Linked DNA regions of Homo sapiens: region 2 is linked to region 1. The links come from fine-mapping of genetic effects on gene expression. Tissue or cell type: whole blood. Region 1 holds a variant in brackets; the other region holds the start of a gene. All regions are shown on one strand. Distances are from middle to middle.

What was found. PIP is the estimated chance that this variant, and not a neighbour inherited with it, causes the effect.
Region 2: it holds the start of CKS1B, and the variant in region 1 is fine-mapped to the expression of CKS1B in whole blood (TOPMed, PIP above 0.99).

What each region holds. Positions count from the first base shown.
Region 1 is chr1:154,856,239-154,861,238 of GRCh38, reverse strand. All of the region lies in intron 1 of KCNN3 (potassium calcium-activated channel subfamily N member 3), which reads left to right. Among named protein-coding and RNA genes, the nearest start is that of KCNN3, 12 kb to the left of the region's middle. RefSeq lists enhancers at 712-1,006, 833-1,312, 836-1,449, 1,516-2,016, 4,151-4,310. The variant G/T (reference allele first, on the strand shown) is at 2,521.
Region 2 is chr1:154,972,626-154,977,625 of GRCh38, reverse strand. It overlaps CKS1B (CDC28 protein kinase regulatory subunit 1B), which reads right to left and starts at 2,945. Exons shown (of 3, transcript NM_001826.3): 1 at 2,822-2,945. The coding sequence starts at 2,880. It overlaps MIR4258 (microRNA 4258), which reads right to left and starts at 1,933; the gene lies at 1,843-1,933. It also overlaps a transcript of SHC1 not described here. RefSeq lists enhancers at 2,540-2,599, 2,700-2,849, 3,300-3,449 and a silencer at 3,120-3,209.

The sequences.
Region 1 (5,000 bases):
TCATACCTGTAATCGCAGCACTTTGAGAGGCCAAGGAGGGTGGATCACCTGAGGTCAGGAGCTCGAGACCAGCCTGGCCAACATGGCGAAACCTCATCTCTACTAAAAATAAGAAAATTAGCCGGACCTGGTGGCTCACGCCTGTTATCCCAGCTCCTTGGGAGGCTGAGGCTGGAGAATCGCTTGAACCCGGGAGGCGGAGGTTGCAGTGAGCCGAGATCGCGCCACTGCACTCCAGCCTGGGCAACAGAGTGAGACTCCATCTCAAAAAAAAAAAAAAAAAAAAACTTGGGTGGCACACCAGTGATGGGCGCTCTGGGAACTTACTGAACCCAAAGCCTATTTCCTCAGTGTTAAGAGGGAATCACAACTACTGGCTGTAGCACAGCAGCCACCACAGAGCCAGCCACACACTGGGTCTCAGCAGCTGGCAACTGTTGCCTTTATTAGAGTGGTGGTTAGAAGATGCCACCTGGAGCATCAAGACAGGAGGGGCATATGCGCCCATGTCACCCCTCCACTGTCTGCAGGTGTCCCTGCCTGGAGAGCACGTGTGGAACATGCCCCTTTTCTCATGAGCCAAATGGCTTCCCGTCCGTGACAAGCTCCCCAGTCATGTTTCTGGATAGACCTTGTTGGGTGAATCTGTGTGAGTAAAAAGGAAGTGGGCTGTTCTCCGGAGGGCAGGGCTGCAGTGGTGGCCTGGGCTGGACTTCTGGAGCCTTCTTACCCCATGGGGCCCTGTTATTCTACACTCAGTTAGCAATTTGTGGTCTGGGCAGAGCTAACCGGGTGTGGACATGCAAATCGGACAGGTGGAGAGAGAACAAAAATAAACCCGTGGGGCCAGGCCAGAGGCTGAGAGGCCTGGAGGAAGGTCAGGGGGACACACGATGACCAGGCAGAAAAAGGCTGAGAGAGTAGGGCCACAGGGAGAGCCGAACTAGGAAGCTGACCTGGGACAGAAGCAGGGAAGAAAAGCATTGCCACAGCTTGCCTGATGCGTCGTCAAGAGAACACAATTTCCCCTTCAAGACTTGAGTCAGGGTGCTTCCTAGAATTCTAAAGATTCTTTCTGCCCCTTCACCCTGCTTGGAGCACCAGGGCTGTGGCAGTGGGTGACGTTCCCAGCCAGGTGCCAGGGGGCAGGCAGCAAGAGCAGCTGGGCAGGGGAGGGACGTGCCCAGGGCTTGCCCTTTGTGGAAGCCATATCTGTTTCACAAGCCCTGGGCACAGGGTAACCAGAGTTGTATTCTGAGCAGAGCCTTGATGATACTAAATGAACAGCATGCAAATGATGTGTGAAATAATATGCAAATTGGCATCTGTTATTTTTGAGTCAGCTTGTTGGGCATTTTTCTTAAAGGACAGGAGTGCTGCTCAGTGTCAAATTAACAGGAAAGTCAGCTTAAAGGACACTCCTTGCAGGGACTGAGCTGGCACCTACTCCTTAGAGCTTGCTGATACCAGGCCTGCCACGCGACATCTGCAAGGACAGTTGTTTGGTGTTTTGCTTCAGGTTATAGATGGAGAGACCTATAAAGGTGGGTGCCCTGCCCAGGTTACCCAGTAGGTAGGGAGGAGGAAGCAGATGACCTGTTGCCTGGCTTGAGCCATTGAACCTTGCTGACCTGTCAGTGGCTTTGAGCTGAGGGGGCCCTGCAGGGAGGCAGGGAGAGGCTGCCCTTGCTCATTCTGGTCCATCTGCCACCGTTGGTTTTCCTTAAGCTCTGTGCCTCAAACTCTCCGAGCCTCAGTGTCCCCGTTTGTAATGGATGTGGGGAGACTGACATCCACTAACCTGGGGAGGATGACACTTGCTAGTGGTTGGTCAAGTGGCCAGCCTGGCTGTGGGTGCTCCTGGGCTGCCAGCAAGTGGTGGCTCCTCCTAGCCCCTTTGCCTGAGTTGGCATCAGCCTGCCTCCTCGCAAGCTTCCACTAGCAGCGATTTTTGCAGAGCAAAACCCCTTTTGAGATTTCTGATTTTAACGAATTGGAGTTTAGCTATTTTCTTTCTTTTCTGGCTTCCAGTGGGTAAGATGTTGGCTCCCCAAAAATCTCCCATACATGGGAATGGCCGGAGCTGCCTGCATGGGTGATGTTACCTTCTCCCAAGGTGAGGGCTTGGGGTAGGCATGTTGCTCAGGGTTGAGCCACCGCCTTTGGAGGGCTCAGAGCTGGATGGCATTGGTGGAGGATGCAGGGGAGGCCTCCTCAGGGGGGCACCATACCTGCCCTAGATGGCCAAGCTCTGTAGGCCAGCCAGGTGTGCTAGCCTGGGTGGGCAAGATCCCTGCATATGCCTCCCAGCCCTGTGAGGAAGGCAGGGAAAGGACCATCCTCCTCCTTATAGGACCCCAAGGCCCATAGAAGTTATGCGGTGGCTCACACCTGTAATCCAGCACTTTGGGAGGCTGAGGCGGGAGGATCGGTTGAGTCCAGGACCTCAAGACCAGCCTGGGCAACATAGTGACACCTTGTCTCAAAAAAAAAAAAAAAAAAGTTACATGACTTGTCCGA[G/T]GCTACTCAGCATTGTTAGTGGCAGGGGCATAGCTGGAATCCTGGAATTCCTGGTTTTAGTTCTTCCTCTCTTTTTGTTTCTCCCATCCCTCTTCTGGAAACATATCCTGAACACCCACTGTGTGGCAAGCCCTGCTCCAGGCGGCAGGAGTGCAGAGAATCTGTGCCTTACAGACTCCAGGGGGGTCTCTCCCCAGCCAGATGTGTTGTTCTCCACCAACTCTTCCTAAGAGAGCACAGGCTTTCCCCATAGACCTGGATTCAAATCCTGGCTATTTGGCTGTGTGGCCTTGCGCAGCGGCCCCTTTATTTGGGAGGTGGTATTTTAATTCCTCTTGTGGGTGGAGAGGTGAAGAATTCAACGTGGGCCAGAGCTGTCACCCAGGGGGCTCTTGTCCATGCTGGGCAATGGTGGGTTTTACCTTGGTTGTTTCTTCTGAGAGCTCAGTGGCCTTGGGATCATGCAAGGTCCCTCACAGCTGGGCCCATGGTTCCCAGCCCCTCCTGCTCTGGGCTGGACCTGGTGTTAAGCTCTGCCAAGATGCTTTCCCCTGCTCTGGGAGAGTAATGGTGCTGAGCCTGGTGGGAGGGCATTTTGGCAGAAGACACCTGACGGGGTGCACACTATGTGCCAGCGATGGAAAGATCCCTTAAGAGTGAAATGAAATTGATGCAAGCTGAGAGCAAGTCTAGGATGGAGTTGAGTCATGAGGGTTTCCTGGTGGGTGGACGGGATCATATAGAAAGAAAGCCTGTGTCCACAGCAGCTTGGGGGAAGGCACCGCTCTCATTACATGGGAACTTATTTTTCCTTCCGTAAGAATGACTCCAAAGCAACACCGGGTCTTATTCAGGAGTGAAGAGGTGACAGGCGGTGGAGAAGAGAATATTTATTAAGGGCCTACTATGTGTGTTTACACACCTCATCTCATTAAGTCCTCACAACAACCCTGTGAGGTAGATATAATTCTCCCCATTTTACAGATGACAGACCCAAGGCTCCGAGAGTTTAAGTGACTTGCTCAGGGTCTCACAGCTGGGAGGTGGTGGAGTTTGGATTTGCACACAGGGGAGTGTCTCCGACGCCCTCACATTGTGCAGCAGACATGCTTTTGCATATCAGATCCTAGACTGGGCTCTTTCAAGCCAAAAAGCTTCTCCTGCCCTGCCTGAGCTCTCCACTCCCGCCCACCCCACCCCTTACTGTGCCACCCTCAGTCCCCTGCCAGCCTCCCCCAGAGCCTCAGGGGATGTTTTGTGCTCATGGAGTGGGGTAAGGGTAGAGGGAGGAGGGGAGGAGGATGCTGGCAGTTTAGATACAGGGGTTTGCTGAAGCTCCAGGTGCCGTGCTGGGCTCTGGGGCTGAGGAAAGTCTCCTGTGGGCCCTGGAGGGGCCACCCGAGCCCTCAACAGCATGCGTCCTAGTGTTCTTGCCGCAGCTCTGTGGCTTCTCGGCTGTGCAGCCTTGTTGAGAAAACTGACCTCTTTGAGCCTCAGTCTCCAGGTCTGTGAATGGGGTTAACAGTGTTTTCTCTCTCTCATGAGAATGGGTGTCATGAGGAATAAATGAGACAAGGGCACTGCCTGGCGTGTTCTGGTTGGTTCTGGGGGTTCAGCACCAAATAGACATGGAGCTCACAGGCTGGTGGGGGAGGCAGGCACTGAACAAGTAACAACAGGTCTGATGTGAGCTTTGCGAGAGACAAGGGCACACACATGTGGCTTGGGTTTGACCCACAAGCCTGAGACTTGGTGTCCCACGCCTCCGTCTGCTCCCCTTCCCCCCATTTCCTGAAGGTCCATCTCACCCTCACTTCTTCCATCCTCCCTCATATCTGTCTCCCAGGCCATCCTCTGATTCTTCTATATGGGCTATCTAGCCTGGTGTTAGGAGAACAGGCTTTAGTGCCAAGCAGATATTGGGTACAGCGCTGGCTGTGTCACTTACTGTAGGCTGTGTGGCTTTGGGAAGCTGTCTCAGTGCTTTGATTCACAGTTTCCATGGGGGTGAATCCTAACCTGGCCGCTGGGGCTGTCATGAGAGTTAATGAGATATTGCTGTTTGTAAGGCAGAGGACATGGTTTCTGGCACACATGGAGCGCTCTGTGAAGGCCAGCTGAGTTGCAGGTGAGGAGAAGCATCCTAGGCTAGGTGTGGGGCAGCTTAGTTTCTGGTCCTCTGTTTTGTCATCTAGAGAGTGAGAGAAGGAGCCTGAGGAGGGGATGTTTCCTGCACTGGCCATCTGCGGGAAGGTCGTGAGCACCAGATGGAATTTCGGAGAGAACTGGAAGAAAGCTACGCTATTCCAGCTGGCGGGGGTCCTCATCGATGGTGCATGTTGGCAGGGTGGGCTGCGGGGGGCGTTATCTTCCTATCCCACAAGCGAAAGCCTGTGAAGACATCGTGGCTAAGGGGATTTTCTCACTCTCAGGAGACAGCTGAGAGACAGGCCCTTCTGGCCAGCCTCCCTCCCTGCTGC
Region 2 (5,000 bases), 120 kb before region 1:
GAGGAAAGGCCTTTTATGAAGTACTGTGTGGACAAGTTATTACAAAGGATGAAATGAACTATCTTGTCCTTTAAAATCTAAGCCAGGCATGGTGGCACAAACCTACAGTCCCAGCTACTTGGGAGGCTGAGGCAGGAGGGTCATTTGAACCCAGGAGTTTGAAAAAGATACAGTATGAAGTTTGAAATCTGATTAAAATACAGAAGAAATAGGCCAGGGGCGGTGGCTCATGCCTGTAATCCCAGCACTTTGGGAGGCTGAGGTGGGTGGATCACTTGAGGTCAGGAGTTGGAGACCAGCCTGACCAACAACGTGAAACCCCGTCTCTACTAAAAATACAAAAATTAGCCGGGTGTGGTGGCATGCACCTGTAATCCCAGCTATTTGGGAGGTTGAGGCAGGAGAGAATCCCTTGAATCCAGGAGGCGGAGGTTGCAGTGAGCTGAGATCTGGGCGATAGAGTGAGATTCCGTCTCAAAAAAAGAGAAAAAAAATAAGAAAAAAGAAAGGGCTGCAATGCACAATGGTTGTGCCTGTGAATAGCCACTGCACTCCAGTCTGGGCAACAAAGCAAGACCTTGTCTCTTAAAAAAAAAATTAAATCTATCCTGAATCTTATTTTCCTAACTCTGGAGGGATGTACCTTGAGACTTTCTGGGTAAATTCCGTGCTTTTCTAACCAAGGATAAGTCTCCCTTCATAGCAAAAAAATTATTACCCTGATGTGAATCAAACTAATCCACATAGTCTTCGTCATGCTCAATGAAAATGTACTAAGTTCTCCCTCTGTGCTAGTAACAGTGATTCCCCACCATTCTCCTAAAAGAAAAAATTCTAGTCCAAATATAATGAAAATAGCTCACATTCTAACACCACCCTGGCACGAAATTTGGCTTCAATACATACACCAAAAAACCCCTCTTAAACCAAAGTGCCACTGCCAAGAGTTTCATCTTCCAGGGGATGAAATGGTGATTCCTTCCCAGCTCCACAAATCTCTTATAAGCACATACAGTTTTAAGTTAGTTTAGTTCAGATGTAGAGGAAAACAGCTGAGGAAAAGAAAGTTAATTAAAGGAGGGTCTGGAGCCGTCTTGGCATAAAGATGATTATGTATTTGTCAATGCACATCGAGTTCTCTGGAAGACCCAAAGCCCTGAACTAGGCTGGGTGAAGAGACACAAGAAAAGCAAGTTTTCATTTTATGTTCTCCAACTGAGGAGACAAGATACAAACCAGGAAGTGGTCTTAATTATTACAATTAATACAGATTAGCATAATGCCAACATTTGTGGAATCCTGTGTCTTCCCTTATTCCCAATCTAGATTATGCACTTAAAATTTATCAAGCCCGAATGCCACATCCAGTGCCAGGATTCCATCATCACCATCCTTGGCAGATGGCTATCCAGTGTCTTCTAAACAATTTCAGTCAAGAGGTGCTTCCTCCCACATACCTTTTTCTTAGAGTCTCATCTCAGGCTCTGCCCTCTAGGAAGCTTTCCCCAACATTCCCTCTTCCGTTTTTCCTCTCAGTATTTTAAGTTTCATGTTCAAGGGTACATGTGCAGGTTTGTTATATAGGTAAAATCCTGACTCGGGGGTTCGGTGTACAGGTTATTTCATCACCCAGGTACTAAGCATAGTACCCGACAGTTTTTTTTTTTCCTGAACCTCTACCTCCTCCCACCCTCCTCCCTCAAGCAGGCCCCAATGTCTGTTGTTCCCCTCTTTCTGTCCCTGTGTTTTTATCTCCGACATATAAATGAAAACACGCGTAGTTTACTACTGGTTTCGTTTTCAATGGTGGTGAAAGAGACATCACGCTGAATTGGCCCTTAGGACACTCCCCCGCCCCCAAACCAAGCCCAGGGAAGAAGACCGACCGAAAGTAAGAGGTCAGCCTCCAAGGCGGTGGCGGGGCGGGGGGCGTTCTCGAAGCGTGGGATGGGGGAGCGTCCTGGAGTTAGCAAAAGTAGGGGACTGACTTTCTAGCCCCACCTCAACCCCCGCTCACAGCTAGGAAGCCGCAGCCTTCGGGTCGCCAGTTCCCTCTCCTTAGCAAGTCTTGTGTGCTCCCATCACACCCTGTAATGGCTCCTTGCATAGCGTGTGTCACCTTTCTGGTGTCTGTCGGTACCACCCACAGATTTTTAAATTTGTGAACAGCAGAGACCATGTGTTATCCTTGCACTTTAGCAGAACACCTGAAACCTGTTAAGTATTCCGTAACTGTTCCCTTTGATATTTAAAGGGCATCTATTAGACCCATATTAAGTATTTTCTCAATGCTCCTAGCCAGTTTTATTCCATTGCAGTCCCAAGCGATCCCCTTCCTTACACAAGCCAGACAACCACGCCCCTTGTCTTTTTCACGAGTTAATAAGCAATATTCAACTCTCTCAGCGCTACTCTCCTGTTAGGGACGCCAGGAAACTTCCAGCTCCGCTTTTGCTACGTTCTCCCACTGGATTCGACAAGATTACTGTGAAACAGTCTCTACAAGGCAAGTTAAGTTTGCCCGATAAAGTTCAGAGAATGATCCAGAAAGCCTCATGGGTGAGGGTGGTCAGTACCCTAACCACGCCCACCCCTCTCTCCTCTCTACTGAGAGGCGACTCCAAATTCGCAACCACTTTGTTTTACGAGCGCCTCCCACCTCCGCGCATGCGCCTTACGCCTTCCACAATATCACACCATTGCCCGTTCGCACCTCGTACGCATGCGCCAATTCTATCGCCTCAGTTCCTGTTACTAATTCCTTGTGCCCTCAGCGGCCAAAGCTCACGACCCTCGCTATTGCTCCCGCGCCAGCACTAACCGATACTCAAACTCCTCGTCGTCGTATTTGTCCGAATAGTAAATTTGTTTGTGCGACATGATCGCTCGGTTTGCTAGCCTTCAGCCCCGCGCCGCCAACCTCCAAGCAACTCCCAACAGCACGCGCTCCCACCCACTTTGGCCTCGCTTTCAAACACGCCGCCCGCACTTCCTATTGGTCCGTTTGGCTCGAGGCGGGACACCTCTACTTTCAAGCCTCCGATTGGCTTAGATTTACTTCTCTTCGGATCCTTATTGGAGGGCAGTTCTCACGCTTCTCAAGAACGAGCGTGGGTCAAAAGTAGGCGTCTTATTGGCCACCACTGCCTTTGTGCGCGATCTCGCGCTGCCATTGGCTAACTCGGGAAAGTGGGAAGCGTGAAGGAGGGACCCTGAGGTAGAGGGTCAGGGGTTAGTGAGGCCGGAAGTGAGTGTAATAAAGTTTCTCCAGGGAGGCAGGGCCCGGGGAGAAAGTTGGAGCGGTAACCTAAGCTGGCAGTGGCGTGATCCGGCACCAAATCGGCCCGCGGTGCGGTGCGGAGACTCCATGAGGCCCTGGTGAGTCTTGACTTTTTTCTCCTTAGGTGACTCACTCTTTCACCCCGGAACCCCTCTCCCGGGACCCCACTTCCGGTCTTCATTTATAAGTCCCGCCCCTGAGACCCCTCTCCCCGGAAGTCCCACCTCCCAACTTCAGGGGGCTCCCCCGAACCCCGACTTGATTTTTATTTTTTGTCTCCGACCCCACCCTGTCGCCCAGTTTTTCTGGAAGTCCCCACCCCCCGACACGTTCCAAGCCCTACTACGAGAAACCCTTCGTTACTCCTTCCATTCTCCGAAACTCCGCCTCCTAGCAACGATCCTCGGCTAACTCCTGTCAAAAGGCCTATCTCCCAAAAGGGCAAAACCCTGCTCTTCAAAGAACGATTCGAATTTGTTGAAGCTCCGCCCCTCCGAAGCCACGCCCCCTCCGTAATCCACGTCTGACTGTCCAGAAAGCCTCCCCGCCCAGAAGTCTGAAGTTCGCGTCCTTAGGGGACCACGCCCCCTTAGGAGCTTTATCTTTGTGGGACCTGGGTCATCAGCTGAAAAGCCTTGTCGTCAATCCCTGAAACTCCACCTGCTTATATTTTCCTGTCCTTTCTCTTTTTGGGCCTTGGGATCAGTTTTCCGAGCACTCTCGTGCTCCCCCAGGTGGGAAGTCAAAGTTCCCATCTCTGGCTGTAAGGAGTGAGATTAAAGGCAGCCGTTTTCCGTTTTCCTTTCTATCTTTTTTTTTTTTTTTTTTTTTTTTAAGACGGAGTTTCGCTCTTATCGTCCAGGCTGGAGTGCAATGGTGCGATCTCGGCTCACTGCAACCTCCGCCTCCTGAGTTCAAGTGATTCTCCTGCCTCAGCCTCCTGAGTAGCTGGGATTACAGGCGCCCACCACCACGCCCGGCTAATTTTTGTATTTTTAGTAGAGACGGGGTTTCCCCATGTTGGCTAGGCTAGCCTCGAACTCCTGACCTCAGGTGCTCCACCCTTATCAGCCTCCTTAAGTGTTAGGATTACAGGCGTTAGCCACTGCGCCCGTCCCCGTTTTCCTCTTTCTTAACCTCCTCCAAGGGTAGAACTATTTGAAAGGGCTGAACGTGGGGTTTGGCACGAGAGGGAGAGAGAGACTTGCCCTCAGACTCCCAGCCTCACTTCCTGGCTTTCCCTTCCCAGGACCAACCTCATCCCAGAAGTAGCTCTAGGCCTTCCTAGACATAAGTGGATAAGACCATGGATTTGTTGGTGTGTGGCATGTGGGTGTGACATGAGCAAAAGTTTTCTACTACCAGAAGAACGGTAGTTTGGAGTGGGGGTAGATAATAGTGCTCTTTTTGTTGTTTGATTTTTTTTTTTTTAAGGGACAGTTCAGTCGCTACTTCTCTGTCTCTTCCCCTCCCCCTAACCAGAGTTCTTGTCTGGGCATTCCTCCTGGCCCCGTTTGCCCAGCCTTCCCTGCTGGAAACATTCCTGAGGCTTTCGCCATTTCCTGCCACTTCCCGCCCCTGTCCCCTCCTCCCAGTTGGGCTGCGAAGCCACACACAGCTTTTCCCCTACACCCAATCACCTGGACTTCCAGTAGGCAATCTCCTTTCTCCCTATGTAAATTTCAAGAGTCATACGTCTTTCTTTTCTTCCGAACGCCCA